Linked DNA regions of Homo sapiens: region 1 is linked to region 2. A link means that fine-mapping ties the variant in region 2 to the expression of a gene that starts in the linked region. Tissue or cell type: thyroid. Region 2 holds a variant in brackets; the other region holds the start of a gene. All regions are shown on one strand. Distances are between the middles of the regions.

Region 1 (9,094 bases), 320 kb after region 2:
GCACTCTGGGAGGCCAAGGCCAGCAGATCACTAGGTCAGGAATTTGAGACTAGTCTGGCCAACATAGTGAAACCCCATCTTTACTAAAAATACAAAAGATTAGCAGGGTGTGGTGGTGTGCACCTGAAATCCCAGCTACTCGGGAGGCTGAGACAGGAGAATCGCGTGAACCCAGGAGGCAGAGGTTGCAGTGAGCCGAGGTCACGCCATTGCACTCCAGCCCGGGGGACAGTGCTAGACCCTGTCTCAAAAAAAAAAAAAGTTACTTCTTTTTTCTTTCTGCTCTCTGATTTTCTTTTTCATTGCTAATGATTTTCAACGAGGGGGATATGTAATTTTAAAAGGTATATTTATATAGTCTAGTTTATCTTTAGTTGGTATAAATCATTTGCCTTTTAAAAAGCATATTTAGTATTATTTTATCCTTCAGAATCTTTTTAAAAATAGCTTTGAGACATAATTCACATACCATACAATTCATCCATTTAAAGTGTACAATTAGTTTTTAGTATATCCACAGAGCCATGAAACCATAACCACAACTAATTTTAGAAAATGTGTACCAAGAAGAAATCGCATATCCACTTGCACTCACTCTTCGTTTCCCCTGCCCTCCAGCCCTAGGAAGCTAAAAATCTGCTTTCTTTCTCTGTAGATTTGCATATTCTGAACATTCCATATACATGGAATCATATAATATGTGGTCTTTTGTGAGTGGTTTCTTTCACTTGCTATGTTTTTAAGGTTCAACTGTGATGTAGCACATTATCAGTAACTCTTTGGCTTTGTAATGCAAACTATTGAAAAGCAAACATGTGACATGAGACTCAAATACCAAGAAAGAAAGGTTTCAAAATATTTATTGAGGATCTCCTATTTGCCACCGTTAGCTAGTAAACGCATATGGATCATTCTCTAATTGTTATCTTCATTCCTACATGATCTATTAGGCACCAGAATTACATTTCCAGCTGCCATATTGACTTGGGTATCCAGGAGCTGACACCTTGAACTTAGTTCTCCCTCTTTCAAGGCCTTCTTTATTTTTGCTAGACAGAATTCCCCCAGGCTCAGAAGTTCAATCTTTAATTCCCTTTTCACTTTCATATCCAATCAGTCACCAAATCTTATAAACTCTATTTCTCAAATATTTTCTCTGTTTTGGTGTGTCAAAAATGTTATGGGTTGAATTGTATTTCTCCACAAAAAGATACACTGAAGTCTTAACCTAACATTACCTCAGAATATGACCTTATTTGGAAATATAATAATTGCAGATATAATTAGTTAAGATGAGGTCATACTGAAATAGGGTGTGTCCTTCATTCAATAAGGCTGGTGACCTAATAAAAAGAACACTATGTGAAGAGACAGAGACACAGGAAAATGCCATGTCACAATGGAGGCAGAGATCCAAATGATGCAACTATAAGCCAAGAAATGCCAAAGATTGCTGGCCATCACCAGAAGCTAGGAGAGAGGCATGGAATAATTCTCCTTCAGAGCCCCCAGAAAGAACCAAACCTGTGGACACCTTGATTTTTAGCCCCTAGAACTAGGGTAAGGTGACAAATTTTTGTTGCTTAAATTACCTAGTGTGTGGTACTTAATCACTACAGCCCTAGGTAACTAATACAGACACTAAATGACTTCATAATAGTTTAGGCATTCATTATATCATGCATCCCAAATCTTTATTTCATCATTTTATCTGCTACCCCAGACCAAGCCATCATCATTTCATGCCTAGGCAATGTTAATCACCTCCTAATTGTCTCCCTTGTCTCCCACAAGAATGGCACCCCTATTGCCATTCTTGTATCCTTATAATTCATTTGCCACATAGAATATTTTAATAATTAAACCATATCATATCAGTGTTCTGCTGAAAACTCTCCAATAGCATCCCTTAAATGGACATTAAAGGGCCTATATGAACGAACAGCTGCCTAGCTCTTGCACCACAATTCCTGCCACTCCTCATTACACACCGGGTATGCTAGATTTTTTTTTTTTTTTAAAAGACCAATTCAATTCCTCCATTGCACGAACTCTGCCATTCTGGAATGCTCTTCCTCTCATGGCTCATTTCTTCTTGTCATCACACTTCAGCTTAAATGTCAGTTCTGAACGGCCTTTCTTGACGACCGGAACTAACACAGATATTTGCTCAGTTTTAATTCTCGACAATGCACTTACCACTATCTGACATTGTTTTGTATTATTTTATGTATTTCACTGGTAATTGTGTCTCCTCTCCCTCCTACCCCCAATAGAGTATGACAACTGGGACTTGTCTTATCATTTATCCACAGTACGTGGGAAAATGGCCGGCACATGGGACTTCAATAAATATGTGCTCAATGGTGAACCACCTAGGTAGGCAGATATGTACGCTAGGATCGTGCTCGTGGGGAGCTTAGGTTCTAAAGGGAAAGGTCAATAAATAGGAGAAAAACAAACACCTAGATTCTGTTAACTGTTGCATAGAAGAGATTGAAGTTATACAGAAGACACTGAGGAGTCTATAATCAGAAGTTTCTCAGGTATGAGGTGACATTTTTGCTGAGGCTGGAATGAAGGCTTGGAAAAAATTAAGCAAGTAGAGCTCAGCTCCCTGAAAATTTCCAACAGAGAGAACAGCAAGCAAATAATCTTAGAGGCTATTATACAACAAATTCACTGAGTTCCAGGAAAGTCAGTGTGACTAGAGCATAGTAAAACTGGAAAATGATGAGAAAAGTGGCTGGAAAGGTAGTCAGGGTCCAGATTATACAAGCCTTGTTAGAGAATGATAAGCTGTTTCTATTTTACCCTAAGTGAAATACTATGCTATTTAAGTTGCTAAATGACATCGTCTGATTTACTCAGTGTAGAGTCTCACCAAACTGTGTCCCCAACCACCAGCATCAGAATCACTTCTGAGCTTGTTAAAAATGCAATCTGAAGCACCACATCGGAACTCAATTAAGATCCCTAGGTGATTCATATGCACATTAAAGTGTGAGAAACACTGGTACAGAGAATGGAGTAGAGGTGAGAAAGAGTAGAAGAGGGGAAGTCAGTTAGAGAGCTACATTCTGGTCCAAGTGAAGGAAAACAGTGGCCTGCATAAGAGTGACAGCAGGAAGGATGAGAAGACGGATTCTAGGTCACGTTTTGCAGACAGTTTGTTTAGGTCTCCTAGCCAGCTAAATGGAAATCTCAGTAGACAGGCAGTGATACAAGCCTGGGTTTCTGAAAAAAGTTTAGGCTTGGAGATGTAGATCTGTGGGTCTGTTATTAATAGTTGTCCTGCTTCGGGTTTTTATTTTTTTTTAATTTTCTTCCTTTTTTAGTGCTTTATATTTTACAAATGTCTGCAGCAGTTTTTTGTCATCTTTATGGAAAACAAGGCACGTCTTAAAGTCGTTCAAGTCCTTCACTTTTTCACACTGAGGTCTGTCTTCATATCCACTTATCTTTCAAGTCTATGAAACCCCTTATAAAAACTTTCCTTTGAAATATTTTAAAATTCAAGGCCCACGGCTGATTAATACTGTTTCTCCTCCATAACCCCTAGGATCCTCCAGTTCTGGGTTTTAACAAGAAAAATATCCTCAATCCTCTCTAGTTTCTAGGTGTAAAGCAGCTTGGACCCTCCTGGGTTTGGTGGGTCCATCTCTCTTGGAGTCCAACTCTGTATTCCTAAAAAGCAATTATTGAAATAGAAGCTAGTCAGTTAATGGCAATAAAAGAAGGGAATTCCAAGTGGGAGCTTCCCAAGCCAAGAGGAAGAGAGGTTTCTTGCCTTATCACTGTAAGTGGCAGAGTGGAGTTCCAATTCAATGATATCATTTGTGTTATCAAAGGTAGTTTAATCGTTGAAAAGCTTGTTAACAATTATAAACACAGGCAAATGCCTTTTCCTTTTTGGCCTTACGGAGAATGAGAAAAGTTCTTCCCATGGCTAAAATTCTTAGCTGTTGGTAATGCAGAAAAGAGTACCAGAACAGCAGAATTCCAACGGTATTCCAGGATTCTGTGTCTTGGTTAATTTTAAATTCACGTGACCTGGCAAACTTAGGAGAGTCCTGGTTGTAAGAGGTATTAACATTTTCAGCAGTAGTACTCTAGCTACACTTGACTGTTCCCCTCTCTGTGAATTTACATGATATGTTTGAAATACTGCCCCTCAAAAGTCTCAGAACTTTGAGAAATACGGTCCTTTCCAAAAAAACCCCTTATGTCCAATTTGAAGGGGTCGCTGTCAGTGGGTGCTTAAGTGGGTAAAGAAAAGCCAAGAATATGTCAGGGTGAGGAAGGCCAAGGCTGAGCGAGGTCAGCTTGGGACCCACCTCCTAGAATGACCTCCGCCAGCAGGAAAAAACCGTTAAGGGGAGGAAAGGGCAGGTCCCTGCGGCCTCCAGGTGCCAGCCGCGTGAGTGGGCGGAGAGGCCTCGGTGCCTCCTACCCGCTCCGGACGTGCGTCCCGGCATCACCCCGGGATCCGCTCCTCCCCGCTGGCGGGGGGAGAAAGGGCAGGAGGCCTTCCGTCCCGGCTATAAAGGGCCCCGGACCGCCGCGGCTCGCCTCGGCTTGCCTCGACACGCCTAGGCGCCCTCCGGCTCCGCCCTAGCCGCCGCGTCCCAGCTAGAGCTCCAGCGCCCGCTCAGGCCCCACTCGACCTCTCGGGCCTCGGCTACTTGGACTGCGGCGGAATATGGCGGCTCCGATGACTCCCGCGGCTCGGCCCGAGGACTACGAGGCGGCGCTCAATGCCGCCCTGGCTGACGTGCCCGAACTGGCCAGACTCCTGGAGATCGACCCGTACTTGAAGCCCTACGCCGTGGACTTCCAGCGCAGGTACCGCCGGAATCCCACCACCCCCACTTAGACAGGCAGCCCGCCTCCCAGGAGCCGTCTCGGGACACGGGCCGCCCCTCGGCCCTCGCGCGCCAACCCCGCCCCAGGCGGGGAGGAACCTGAGTGGGCGGGGCTCGGGGTGACTCGGGTAACCGGGTTCTGTGGCTTCCGTAGTGGCAGGTTTGACAGCGCTGGTGCCCGGAGCGGGCGCTGAAGAAACTTCTTTCCTCATCCCCTTTCCCCTCTGTTCTAATCAGCGGTCTTGCGCCATAGGGTACGTGCTGTGGCTCCAACACTTATTCCCCAGAGTGCTGCTGGGGAGTGACTCACCGCCGCTGCAGGTTTTCTGACTTTGGCACCCACTAGCGTGGGCCTGTGGAGTAACGTGGGCATAACTCCTGGCACGTGTAATTACGCATTTAAAACTTTCTAGTTTATTTCATAGCAAATGTTGTGATTTTATATCTAAGAGGATTCCTTCAGGCAGACACTATATCCTTTTGTTTTTTCCTTGCTAATATTCCTCATTTAGGGGAAGATTACACCTACATTGATCAATTTTTTCTCCCCTTGGATCAACATTGAGAAGTTAAATGTACATCAACATTTGTCCGTGTGTGACTTTAACCATCTTGAAGAGGGAGAAAGGTCAGGAAAGCAACTTTTACAGGCCAATGTCGTTTTAGCTTGTCTTCTACCATTGTGTACCATACAACTTTAGTTACTGGGCTAATAATTCTATTCATAAGTTCCACTAAAAAGGTACAGGTCTTTTTCTGTTGTCGTTGTTGTTTGAAGTAAAAGAGCTATTATACAAGTTGTAATAGTTATACTTGTGAGGTTACCCCATTTTGATTTAATAGTTTCTCCCCTTTTAGGAGAGACACTGCAGAATGGAAACTATCCTGGCAACAGAATATACATGGCCAATTTTTCGAGTGATGGAAAACATCCAACTAGTTAACTGGCATGAAGGAGCGTTGAGAGTAATGAAAATGGGTTGATTTGGAGTTTGAAAAAAGCCCAGCAAATTGTTTGTGTCCTAGCATTTTCAGGTATTAAATGCATTCAAATCAGCAAGTGTTTATTGAGGAACTCCTATAAATAAAACACTGCTCTAGGGATTGTAAGGGATGTGAAGTTTCATTCTTGAGCTTGTATATAGTAGTGAATGAGGCCTCTGTAAAATAATCACCTTGAGCTGTCCCTCACTTAATCAGATGATTATGCTCTTATATAAACCATATGAGGAGCAGCCTTGTGAAATTGTTTTCAGAATTTACAGTATATGCTTTCAGAGAAACTTAGTGCATAATCGTCATAGGTTTAAGGTTGGATTTGATTTAGAAATAGTCAGAAAAAATTTAGAACAAAAGATAGTGATTAAAGGTAGTGGTTAGATTTTTTTTTTGATGTCCTTGTAACCATGACATTAATTTACCTGTGTGCTTTGTAAAAGGACACTTAAGATATTTATTAAAGAAGAGTTGTGGAAATGTTTTATCTACACCCCCTTCCTTTTTTTTTTAAATGACACAAACAGATTAACATTCTTTATTAAGTGTTTCTTTCATGTACTTTATTTCCAACTCCACTGGGATTGAAGCATTTATAATCTTCTTTCATGGTTTGCCAAAACTAATGAAGGGAACAAAGGCCAAGATAAAGAAGGGAAGAGAATCCAGTGTGCTTGGTGAAAAGTCTCGTCCAGTGGGCCCTCATGCCTCACTCTGACCCGGATTTTACTTTTGTCCTTGGTTCTGAGTAATGGCCATTTGCTAGCATACATGTTCCATTTAGGCATATCAAATAGTAATTTGGCATTTGTTAGTGGTAACTTCTATTGTTAACACTTGAAGAATAAAACATTTTTCCTTCATACAATCTGGTCTTAGTTCCTTGTCCAATTTTCCATTTATTTCTGATAATCCATTTGGACTGTGTGTCTTTGGCCTAACACAAATACATAACCAGTCAAACACTTAGGTGCAAAGTATGCTTACTAAGGAGTGAAGAAAATTTGAGGTACAAACAACAGTATATAATTAAGGTGATGAAGAAGGAAATTTCTCTTTGATGGACTGTCTCATCCTTCCCCAACAGATATCTTTTGATTTGAAATTTTTTGGATGTTCCCTTAGGATGTTTTGGATGTTCCTTCCCTTCTTTACCTTGGCCTTTTCCCCTTCTGTATTAGTCCGTTTTCATGCTGCTGATAAAGACATACCTGAGACTGGGCAATTTACAAAAGGAAGAGGTTTATTGGACTTACAGTTCCAAGTGGCTGAGGATGCCTCGCAATCATGGCAGAAGGTGAAAGTCATGTCTCACATGGTGGCAGACAAGAGAAGAGAGCTTGTGCAGGGAAACTCCCCTTTTTAAAACCATCAGGTCTCGTGAGACTTACTTACTATCAGGAGAACAGCGTGGGAAAGACCTGCCCCCATGATTCAGTTACCTCCCATCAGGTCCCTCCCACAACACGTGGGAATTCAAGATGAGATCTGAGTGGGGACACAACCAAACCATATCACCTTCATTAGTTGTTCTTTTCACCTTCTGTACCTGTGAGAATTTTGAATCAAGTGTAGAGGATTAATGAGTTACTCTGCTATAAAATAAAAATTAGTACATTATTAGCATGACTGACCACCTCCATGTTGTCTCATTGATGACCTCCCAAAATAGCATTTTCCACTTGATTTTTCTACCTTTTATTTAGTTATTTACTTGTTGTTACACTACAATTAGTTGTTATAATTCCAAAATCTTAGTGCTTTAAAACAACATTTAATTGTTCCCATATTACATGTCAGCATGAGTCAGCCAGAGGGCCCTCCTCATGGCAGTCACTCAAAAATCTAGGCTTATGAAGGATTTGTTTTGAAACATGCTTCTGTAGAGGTGGTCACAGTGCAAAGAGAAGCATGTTGAACTATGCACTATTTCTTACAGCTTTTGCCTAGCAGTGAGTCCATTCTGCTGATACGTTACATTGGCCAGTGCCCATCAGCTTGCCATGTGGGTGAAACAGAGAATTGGCATTTGTGAACATTGTCAAAACAACACAATTTAATAATACTACTTTATACCCTCTGTTTAATGTTTATAAAGTACTTTCAGATCCGGTATTTAATGTAATCCTCATAACAAAACCATGAGGTAGACAGACGGTGGGCATTTTTCCTGTTTTGCAGATGAAGAAACTAAGTGATGGGCTTGAGCATATATGGCATAAGTAAGTGCTGCAACTGTGATTAATCTTTCTTTACTGAAACTGTTCTCAACCAGTTCACAGACAACTTCATGATAATTTAGGGATCCCTCTTTTCTTTATCTCTAGCATTGTACATGTTGGACTATTTCTTGGCTCTTTGAAGCCATAATCTTGCTTTTCTTTCATTTTCTCAGCCTCTTTTTGACCATTTAATGTAAGAGATTTTCAAGGTTCTTCCCTGGGATCATTTATGTATTTCTATTGTATATTTTCTCCCTAGACATTCTCATCCATCCCATGGATTCCATCTATCTACTGAGGCTGCCCACATCTGTCTCCACTCTAGATCTTTCTCCTTATCTTGGACTTATTTATATCTTCATTTTGATGTTTTATAAATACAAATCTCAACATGTATAAAACTGAACTTAACAGATTTTCATTCCAAACATGTTTGTCCCTGTCAACCCAATCGCAGTGTCTGGAATCTTCCTCTACCAGCTGCTCAAACCTAAAAGGTAACGAGTGATTTCTAATTACTCCCGTCTCCTCCTAGACCTTTGAGTCTAGTCAATTGTAGCCCCTAACTTTTAAGTATGTAGCATGCTGCCTTCCTACTGCTGCCATCCTAGTTCAGGTTGCTAGCATCTCTAGTATGGTTTACAGAAACAACCTCATAGCTGTTGTTCTTTTTTCAAATCTTCACTCCATTCTAACTTCTCCACTCCTCTTCATTCCAAACAGAGTAAGTAGAATGGATTTTGAAATAAACAAATCTGATCATGGTACTCCTCTGCTTAAACCCTTTCAACCATTCCTCATTTCTCTTGAGTTCTGTACAGCCTCCTTCCCATAACTTAGAAGATTCTGCATTATCTGGTCCCTGTTGACCTTTTCAGCCTCCCTCTCGGTACCATCTAACCAGAGGGCCATAAAGGGAGAGGGCAGCTTGGATCTCTGGGGACCATTCTGTAAAGGTACCAGAATACCAGTAAAATAAATTAGAAACATGATATCCATTTCCCACATGCA
Region 2 (10,719 bases):
TGAGTCTGAAGTTGAATATTAAATGTTATACATAATTATATTACTTGGATACACACACATATTTATGTATACATGCACACATATCTTGATAAATTATAGAATGCTTTTAGCAGCATTGTGTAACTCTGACCCTAATATTTTTGTAGTGTGTGCATTACAAATTAGAATCCAATCAAGAAGGACATTAAATTATTAAAATATCCATTGACATCTTTCTAAAAAAGTGACTGATAAAGCTTATTTGTAAAACATTGCATTGTGCCCACATGGAGGATTCTTGTATCATTCTGAAGACTTTCAATATTTGGAAAATGACTGATTGAATAGATACAGATAATCATATGAAATTGGTATCTTTAAACACCTTGCAGGTATTGTCAACCAGGTTTGATTGTAAATATAAGAAATAGTTTAAATTTAGGTGAATGTACCAATATTACTATGCATACATGTTTTCCTTTGTAAATTAATTCAAAACCATAATTCATTCCTTGATGCCCTATCAGTTATAAATAATTAATCTTACTAATCAGGAACATATAAAATAAAGTGTTTCTATACAATAATTTGTCATAGTCTAGATTTTGAATTTTGGAGATGAAATTTGTAACTTACTAGTAAGCCCCCTCTAAATGTTCCAATGGTAACATGTCACAACCTGCCCAAGCTTTTTTCTTCACAATTGTATGCTGCACAGGCAAATTTACTACAAAATACTTCTGCAGAAGCACCTTTAGTGTTTTAGAATTACAACTTCATCCCATGCATACAATCTTTTCAAGTCCCATAATTGTTTGAAAGAAGGTTTTGCTTCTTTGAAAAGTGACATTGCCTACCCCAGGTTGCAACTGATTAAAACTGAGCTCTAATTGAGTGCATTTATTAAAGTTTTCTATTTAAAATAATTGAGATATGGCTCTGCAAGCAGTGGTCCATATCAACTATGTCATATTATAAATGGAATGGAGCTTACGTCATGCCACCTTTAGATAATTTGTGCAATTGTCTGTGAAGTGCTGCTAGACAATCTCTGTGAGTGACTGTTCTTGTCTTTTTATTCAAATAAGCTTTATAATAGGCTATTAAGCTTGTTTTCTAGAGATATACTTCAATAATTTATACAGCATTGCAGTCAAAACTAACCCATCACTTGTTTTTAGCAACGTATCTTCCTAGAAGTTTAATTATTCAGTAAATTCACAGGATGAGATCAACTAAATGTAGAAAATCTCATAATCTCTGTCCCAGAAGTGCTGAAGCACATTTAGTAATGAGAGGAAAAGCTAAAATATTGATAGCTAACAAAAGATAGAGCAAAAGTTATAGCACATATAGTAATAACAAAAAAACACACCACTTTAAAAATATGTTTTTAAAGGTCCTTCAACTTTGATGTAATTGGGCTTTTACCATGTTCTGATCTTTACTACTGATATTCTAAAATCTCACATTTCTCCTCTCCCCCACTGAGATCTGCCCTGGCATGTACTTAGTCAGAGGTGATTTTATATGAAATCTCTTAAAATAGCTCTTTATTGTTTATGATCCACAGATCTGTATCAGAGGCATTGTTCAGTTCAGCACATTGACACCGCACGTAAGGATGGCTTAGATTACCCTGAGATTATCAATGCTCTCCAAAGAGCTGGCTTCAAATCATTCTGGAAGCATCCACAGTAAATATTTCACTATCGACCTAACACTGATTAAAGAGATTGCTATTATTGAACAGAGAGGAGTCAGCTGCCTCAAAGTTTGAATTCTCTCCAAAATAAAGAGTTGTCTTTGATTGCCTTTGACCAACTTCATTTTTTAGGAAAAATCCTTGGGTCATCAGTGAACAAACATACTTTTTGAGACAGAGATATGGGGACAAACTGTCTTCTTTTTCACTACGACATTTTCTGTTTTAACATAATGAAGATTTAGAAAGCTAACTGATAGTCTGAGCTAGCTCTGTAAGTGTTTTCTGATCAGTTAGCCTGGAGTTGTGCCTTCCAAGATGTTACATCAGACAGATTTCCTGAGTTACCCACAGAGACACAGAAGTCACCAAACAGGATTGTTCAAGGGTAGAGAGCTGGAGACACAACAATACCACAGAGGATGTCACAGAACATAGCTTTCATCTCGCCACAGTGTTCTTGTGTAAAACTGTAAAGCTATATGAGACATGGCAATTTCAGTTCACAGAGGTTTAAGGGAATCTTTGTTTCTACCACACGAGACCTTTAATGTGAGTTTGAGGTTCTAATAAATTTAAAATCTCAAAATAAAATCTGGCAACCACATGTATGTTTGGTGTAACGTCCACTGGCATTAATATAACTTAGACTTGAACACACCCATTAGATAGTTTATACGACTAAGTATTTTTAAAACTATCAATACATTTTAATTATATTAGTGTAACCCCCTCCATATGGCTTTTATATAGTCTTATGTAGTCAATAATTTCCATCTACTGAACCCAGTCAATTATTTAAAAAAAAAAGACAATCTTTTCTAATGAAAAAAATTACTTCTCTCTACATTTAACGGAAAAAAAGGTCATTTTGGGGGTTAGGAGTAAAAATAACATTTTTGCTGGTTTCCTTTTAAAATATTGTTTTGCTTCATGTAATTCAGCAAAGAGGCATTTGGTCTCTCAACATAACTGTCTACATGATCATATGAAGAAATTATACCAGTTAAATGTCATGGTAAAAAGTGTGGAAGAAATTCAGATGAAAATTAGCCTGTAAATAATCTTGTATACTCTCAAAGGAAGCACTTACCACCCTGAACACACTTGCGGTGACTACTGGGGTGAACACAATCGTGATCAGTTTGTTGACAGATTCTGATTCATTATAAACTAACCTTCCTGAGAAAGTCGTCACAAGGTTCTCTGGTGAATAGCTTGTGCTGGAAATTATTAGGGTTTCTTATGCAGATAGTTACCCAGCACGTGACCCTAAAACAAATTGCCCCTTCTTCCAGAAGGGAAACTGCCCTGAAATAGATTGCCCATTTATTCACCCACTCCCTAAACCGATGCATGCTGATTGAAAATTCCAGGGCATGACTTTTCCTGGAGCTGTCCTCTATCTTCATTTTAGCTGTCCAGAAAAAGACAGGACATCCAAGCTTTCTCATCCCCTCCTCTTCAGTCCCACAGAAACTGCTGTCATTGTGTTACTTTCTGCTGGCCAGGCAGGTATGAGGCTTCCACTGAGGTGGATGTTAAAACAGCCACATGGGTCAGCAGGCAGATGGAGAAAAGGACTAGGGAAAGCGAAAGAGTGCATGCTTTTTAAAAAGACAGCATACCGCGAGGTCACACATATGCCGCTGGGTGATCTGACACTGCAATACTGACAGTTGTTAGATAGAATTTAAAAGATGGGGGGTTTTGTAAAATTATTTTGGACAGTTCAGTGCTTCTAGATAATTTTATAGGGTGCTCTGACATTTAAACATCTGAAGTAAAACTTCCTTTGAAGGCCTGACAAAGGTATAGTCATTTTATCATAAGCCAAACAATCTTATTTTTATAAGAATAATTTATCAGAACTGTGAGTTCCCTGCTGAATCACTTAAGTGAAACTAAGAGAAATCAGGAAGTGAGGATGAAAGACAGGACGAAAGAAAGTTGGAAACGCAAGGAAATACTGGAAAAAAATAGATACATATTCTACTCAGTAAATGTTTTGTGTCATCTCTGAAAGAATAGTAACCCCGAGAGGCTCCAGAAAGTACAACTCTGCTTGGCAATGATTAGATTGGTGGTTAGACCACCAGCCCTGCAGAACAGTATGACTTATATGCTATTTTCCAATACCAGGATTGGAAATCTAATTTACAGTACCCAGCCCTTTTCCAAACACCAAGGCCTCCATCTAAAGTATGTCATGCTATTAGGAACACAACCATTTAACCTCGATGGCAGCAATTCTTTATGAGCAAGGTTCATCCTTCATTCTCCACAGTTTGGCTAATAGATGGATTCAATAATACTCTTTCAGAATCTGGGTACACTGGGGCTGCTTTTATGCATAGGTAGAGAAGCAATCAACAGCATCTGGTGTCTGAAGCCCAAGACAGCTGACGTCTACAGTGACTCAAATTGCCACACTTTCACTACTTCAAGGAACAGCGTTAAAACCAAAACTATCACACTGAAAATCCTCAGGAGGTGGCATTTAAAACATAAGATATACAAATGGTGCCACTGAGAACTGTACAGGACAGAACCTATAAGGCCAACATTTAAAGCCTCCTTGAAAGCATTTAAAAAGAATATTATTTTCCATAGGAAGACAACATCTTCAGCCATTATCACCCATTAACTCTTTCTCCCTGTATCAGACAGGGTCCAAGCAGAGATACAGAACTAGTGGGAGATAGATATTAAGAGATTTACTGCAGAGAATTGGCTTATGGATTATGGGTGGTGGCCAGGCATGTTCACAAGCCTTCAGGAAGGGCAGGCTGAAAACTCTCAGGCACAAGCTGAAGCTGCTGCTCACGGCCGACACTCCTTCTTTAGAGAAGCCTCAGTTGTACTTTTAAGACCTATCACCTGATTGAATCAGGGCCACTCAGGTGATCTTATTTAAAATCAACTGATTATTCACTTAATCACACCTGCAAAATACAGCAATGCCTTAATTAATGCTTGATTAAATAACTATAGATTGGACGTAAGGCTAGCCAAGCTGACACATAAACCTAACCACTATAATTTCCTATCAAAATGGTTTCAAAGTTGACTGCTTTAGTTTTCTATAGTAATAGTAAAGAAGAAAACTAATAGCCAGGAGAGAAGATGTAGTGACACCCTATGTAGTGTAAGTATCCTCCTAGGTCCCTATCCAGAAATCTGAAATAGACATTTTTCAAAAAGACATGAATAGGCTGGGTACATGGTGGCTCACGCCTATAATCCCAGCACTTTGGCAGGCTGAGGTGGGCAGATCATTTGAGGTCAGGAGTTCGAGGGCAGCCTTGCCAACATGGTGAAACCCTGTCCCTACTAAAAATACAAAAATTAGTAGGGTGTGGTTGTGGGTGCCTGTAATTCCAGCTACTTGGGAGGCTGAGGCAGGAGAATTCCTTGAGCCCGGATAGCTCCACTGCACTCCAGCCCGGATGACATCTCAAAAAATAAAAAATAAATAAAACGAAAAAAAATGATATGAGGATGTAGCTAAAAGAAGAAAGGTTCAACCTACAGGGGATTCACTGTATTTGATAAAGGAGGAAAGCAATATTTTAACATATTAGTGTGCTTTTGTTCCTTGTGATTTTCATTTCCTTTAATTCCTGTTTATTTCCTGGCCCTTTCCCCATTTAGACTAAACTCAGAGCCATCCAGTGTTTCATGGAAGCATTGCAAAATCCCAGTCCTGTGAATACCAGAAGCCAAGGCATAATGAGGAATTCAGAAGAAAAAAACGTCTGCCAGGGATGATTTTCCCTCAACTATATACTAAACTCCAAGATGAGTTAAAATCTGCTTTTATGATTCTGAGGAAAACCGCAGAAGAGTGAGAGACAAATGAGTGAAAAAGAAAGGTAGGGCTTCGTAGGACCACGGTTAACCTATTCTACTGAGTTTTAATTCAAGAAGGGGAGAAATGATAAATATTTCATATGATCTAATAGTAGAATAACCTGTGTTTCTTATTTCATTAGATTTATCCACACATCTGGATAAATGTGTGAAAAAGGAAACAATTTTTTTTAATCTACCATGGGAAAGATCAAAAGAAATATCTTGGAGGACTGTGACCATCCTGTAGTATGTGGACTGAAACTATCCCCATAATATGCTATAAAGGAGCACAGCATTCTCAAAGAGGAGACTTCATTTGGTTAGAAAAATAAATGATATTTATGTGAAATGGTCTTTCCTTGGGGACTATTTCAGTATTTGTTATC[G/A]TGGAACTAATTTAACTTAAAAATTTGTTAGATCAGTGTCCTTTCTACCAACAGGTGACATAGAATATTTATAGCTGATGTCTTCAACACTTCATTCTATAACTTAACAAATATGTTCACCACAGACTACCCTAAATCATGTCAAAGTTTGAATCTGAGGCTTCTAATTAGATGCCCTAATCACTTCATTAGGTATTTCCATAGTTTTAACATTGTAAAATGGCTACACTTTGGGATGATGATAAGGTAAATTCATGCAACAGTTTTATTCCAGAGGAAGTAACATCTGCAGGAACTCTCCGATTGCATGTGCTGTCAGTAAGATGCAGGCCTCAGAGTCATAAAGGCCTGACAACACATAGACCTTGGAGTTTGAACTATAATTTGATGACATGTTGCTGCCATTCCTACCGGTTCATCTTCTAGCTGATGCACTGACTTATCTTAACAAGAACTGTTATATCCTGGTCCAAGTTTGCCTCACTGGGAACTCACAACCAAGGGAACTCAACCTTGTTGAAACTCTTAGTTCCTTACCATTAATGGCAGATTTGGATTGCCTGTGGGATTGCAGCTGATGTGTAACCTCTGCCTCACTCAAGCATATTGTTAGTCCGTAGCCCTGAGTGCAGAAATAATTGACAACCTGCTCTATCTCCTTCTGTATAAGCCTGCAGGGCATAGTCAGCCACGTTAAACAACTGCTAGGTGACTGCTTCAAATATTGCAGGCTTCTACTGAATCCTGCTCAAGGGCAAGAACTTTCTGGAGGAGGAAAAGGAAATCTTTATATCAGTGTTCAAGTTTCTGGTTGCATCACTGATCAGGATGACAGAAAGAAGACTGGATATTCTAAAACAGGAGGCACACCCATCTCAATCCACCGGACATAGACAAAAGATAAAATGGGGCTATGTACATAACATTGCCACTCATGTTGAGCAGCTTTTTAATCTGTGTAGCAGTAGACATGTTGTTTTTTTAAAAAATAAATTCATATACAAAGAGAACCAGAAGATAGGCAGAAAACAGACTCTTCCAATTTGGATAACTTAATTTAAATGTTTTCCCTTTCCAATTTCTTTTCCAAAGTGTAAAAATATTTTGCCACAGTATAATGTTCTTTTATTAGTTATTGGTCACTACACTAGTCATCTACTGGTACATAACAAACTACCCCAATGCTTAGTGACTTAAAATAATTTATTATTCCTTATGTTTCTGAGCGTTGACAGGCTCATCTGGGTGATTCCTGCTTAGGGTCTTTCACGTGACTGCAGTCAGATGACAGACGAAATTGAAGTCATTTGAAGACTTCTTCACCTATATGTCTAGTATCTAAGCTGGGAGGAATAGAACAATTAGGAGTTGATGGAGGTCTCTTTCTCTCACTTTCTATCCCTGGGGCCTGTCCACATGGCTAGCTTGGGCTTCTTCACAACATAGAATGTTCAAGGTGTTGGATTTCTTATCTAGTGCCTAAGAGGGTCTTCTCAGAGGAAGGAAAATGAATCCACCAATTCTTGAGGCCTGGGTCCAGAAACAGAAACAGCATCACTAATGCAGTATCTGTCTGCATTCAAGGGGAGAGGTCTCTATATCTTAATAGAAGGAATGTCAAAAAAGTGGCATTTTAATCCAACATAGCTACCAATAACAGCAAGTCATTTTTTTTCCATTAGTGTATTTTCCATTTAAAGTACCAGTTAATGTTCCCTAATGATTAATAATGACTTTTTGAGAGTTACATACGCAAATACTTTATTTGTGACCGGTATGTGATTAGAGCATTGTAGGTTATGATAAGTTGAAGTCATTTTGACATAATTTATCAGTAAGGCCATCTATGGTACGCATTCAGAGTGCAGGTTCAAGTAAACACCCTTATAGTTCACTAGTATCATGTACATTATATATTTTACATAATATAGACTTTATTTTTATTTGCTGTAAGTAAATATTACATAACACCAACTTCAATGGATTCTACAATATGAAATTTCCCAAACCTATAATCCCCTCTCTAAAAATGGAAAGAAGATATGCATATGTTTATATTTCATAGTTACCTAAAACACGCACGTATTATTCACACAAGAGCATGTTCAAATGTAAACAAATGGTATCAATTAAAATACATTTGGCTGCAAATAATATAATGGCCAAATGTCAATGGTTTACATATAGGGATATAATTATTTCTCACAATAAGAAGTTTGAAGACAGGTGGTTCCAGAGTGGCAGCAATGATATTACTACTAACACTGGGGTCTTTTAATTTATTTCTCTGTCCTTTTAAATATGTTGATTTTTCTTCCTTAGTTTTCTCACTTCATAGTCAAAAAATGGCTTTCACTGCAACAGGCATTATTGTCTTATTCCACATCCCAGATCAGTGGGAAATAAAAGGCAAAACAAAATTTTTCTTTATCCGTGAAAATAAACCTTCCCAGAAACTCTAGTAGATATTCCCCTTTATTTCCCAGGCCAAAACTAGGATATATGCTCACCTCAAACCACCTCAAACAAGGCCAGACCTTGTTTTTACTCAATTCAAAGGGCCTCTATGTGATTGATGTAATATCTTAAACGAGATTTCATAAGCAATAAGAAATGAGAGAATGGCTTTTATAGGCCATGAACAGAATCTATTAATGAGTTTTTGGTGGATTTATATTACAAAATGACATTGTTTTGTCATAGTTCCCAACGAGGACAGTGGTCTTCTTTGTGAGTCTCTAAATGACCCAGTCTTATCCATGTTAGTGCTGTCTCTGACAGTTGCCTCCTGATTTTACTAAGTAAAAACTTACCAACCTTCCTGTACAGGAGGCATTTATTTGACAGACTTGCATAATCTATCTACGTATAATTTCTGAAAGGGCTTTGATTTTTCCATGACAGGTATAAGCTAGAAAATAGAGGTAATCTACAAATACAGCACATGGTACTCCAAACTGGCAAAACTTTGGTCTTTCTGTCCTTAGGAACTGCATTGCTACTGTCTCCTCACCCTAAAATATGAAATTGAGATCCAAGTTCCCTGGCTTGAGTAGAACCTAATAATTCATAATTATCATTGACCAGAACAATCACATACCTAATTAAAGCCATATGATGTCACTCTAATGCAAATTCTGACATTTGTAAATTGGTTCCAATGAGACAACCAAGGCAAATTTTGAAGCTAAAATAAAAATCTGGGCTACTTTTAAAGATTCATTTATTCAGTAAAGTCAAAGTATAGCTTTGCTAAATGTTTCTAAACCTCTTCTCTTGGGGCATACATTCACTAGGGCTTTAAATGACTGTTAGGAACCTGTTTTTCTAGTTGGTTTCAATGTTCAACTAGTGTTTTCTAGCCCTGTACTATTTTAGTTTTCCTAGAAAAGAATTGTTATTCTCTCTCCTCAGTGAGGTACATATTAAGAGGTCTGATGTCTCTACCCTCCTCTTTTTACTTAAATTACGATAGTGGAAAGGTGTCCCCTTTTCTCCACTCAGCAAGCATGTGTTCAGCATCAACTCTGCCAGAAACCTTATCAGCATCCAGGCAGATAGGCTCTCTCCCCTCACACAGCAAGTGATTCAATCCAATGTAAAGAACATAAGAAACACCTTGAGGGAGAGAAGAGTCAGTTAAAAAAAAAAAGATAGAAATATTATCAAGGTATATAGTCAACACAGAAATTTCAGAATGTTTAGTAAATGTTTACATGAGAATTGAGTGGCTATCAATATCAAGGTCTTTATGTAAAGGACCATTTAGTGGATAGAAGAGAAAATATTTTAATTTTAAGGGACACAGATTCCTTTATGTGTTGAAAAAAAATGAGTCCAGAACTTATCTTTTAAAATGCTAATAATACTATTGAAAATCAAAATATTAGTGAGATGATTTGATAAAAAAGGAAAATTAAACACCAACATCTATGGGATAGGGTTTACTGGAATAGGTAGATTCACTTCCAAATAATTGATGGATAAGAGAGAAAAAAATTATGTAGGTATGAGTATTTTAACAAGCTTACCAAAAATGTATTCAAATAAAGTAAAATGCACTTTTCCAACTAGGAAACATTTTTAAATTGGTAAAACTGGCTTACAGAAAATACTGAAAACCCCATAAAGTATTCTCAGAAAATTCACTGGGTTGTGGCGAGGAGATCCTCACATCCGAAGAATGAACTTTTTAAATTGATCTTAGTTTCTTTCCTTTCTCCCTCTCCTTATTTCTGATCCTAAGAGTCATGGCCTCATTTACGTAAAACTCCAAGCAGAATAAAGGTTTTAGGAAGGTAGACATTTGACAGTAGTTAATGAAGCCAACTCCCACTCTAGAGATATTCCAAGATTTTGATTGCCAAGCCCTGAGCATCTGCATCTTTGCTTTACTTGGGGGTTTTTGCAGGATCTGTTGACCAGGGGGCTGACAGAATGCTAAATATGCAGACAGTACAAGGCATTTTTTTTCCTTCAAGTTCTACCTAGCATGCTCAATCCCCAGTTCTCCTCCCTGCCACCATATGAAGCAGAAAATGCTGGTAATTAATGTTGGCAACTCTCTAGACACATGCTACCCTAGAAACCTCAAGGCAACTGCACATGCACTTTGCAAAGCTTAGCAACTGTCCTGAGCCACCTAAGAAGGAAATGCAGAATGAAGGACTGCCTTCAAACACCTCAGGGACTAGACAGACTCAACACCTCAACGGATGACATTTGAACAGTAGTAGTGACTCATTATGGTCCAGGAGTAGTGGCTCTGCCCTGAATGGACCACAGATGTCTACT

Evidence for each region. PIP is the estimated chance that this variant, and not a neighbour inherited with it, causes the effect.
Region 1: GBE1 starts here. The variant in region 2 is fine-mapped to the expression of GBE1 in thyroid (GTEx, PIP above 0.99). The same link has a PIP of 0.9 or more in lung.

The regions. Positions count from the first base shown.
Region 1 is chr3:81,757,126-81,766,219 of GRCh38, reverse strand. GBE1 (1,4-alpha-glucan branching enzyme 1) reads left to right here and starts at 4,575. Exons shown (of 16, transcript NM_000158.4): 1 at 4,575-4,845. The coding sequence starts at 4,703. RefSeq lists silencers at 4,347-4,446, 4,947-5,026, 7,608-7,902 and enhancers at 4,102-4,710, 4,497-4,786, 5,127-5,296.
Region 2 is chr3:82,071,816-82,082,534 of GRCh38, reverse strand. The region is part of intron 1 of LINC02008 (long intergenic non-protein coding RNA 2008); the gene reads right to left. Among named protein-coding and RNA genes, the nearest start is that of LINC02008, 91 kb to the right of the region's middle. The variant G/A (reference allele first, on the strand shown) is at 5,926.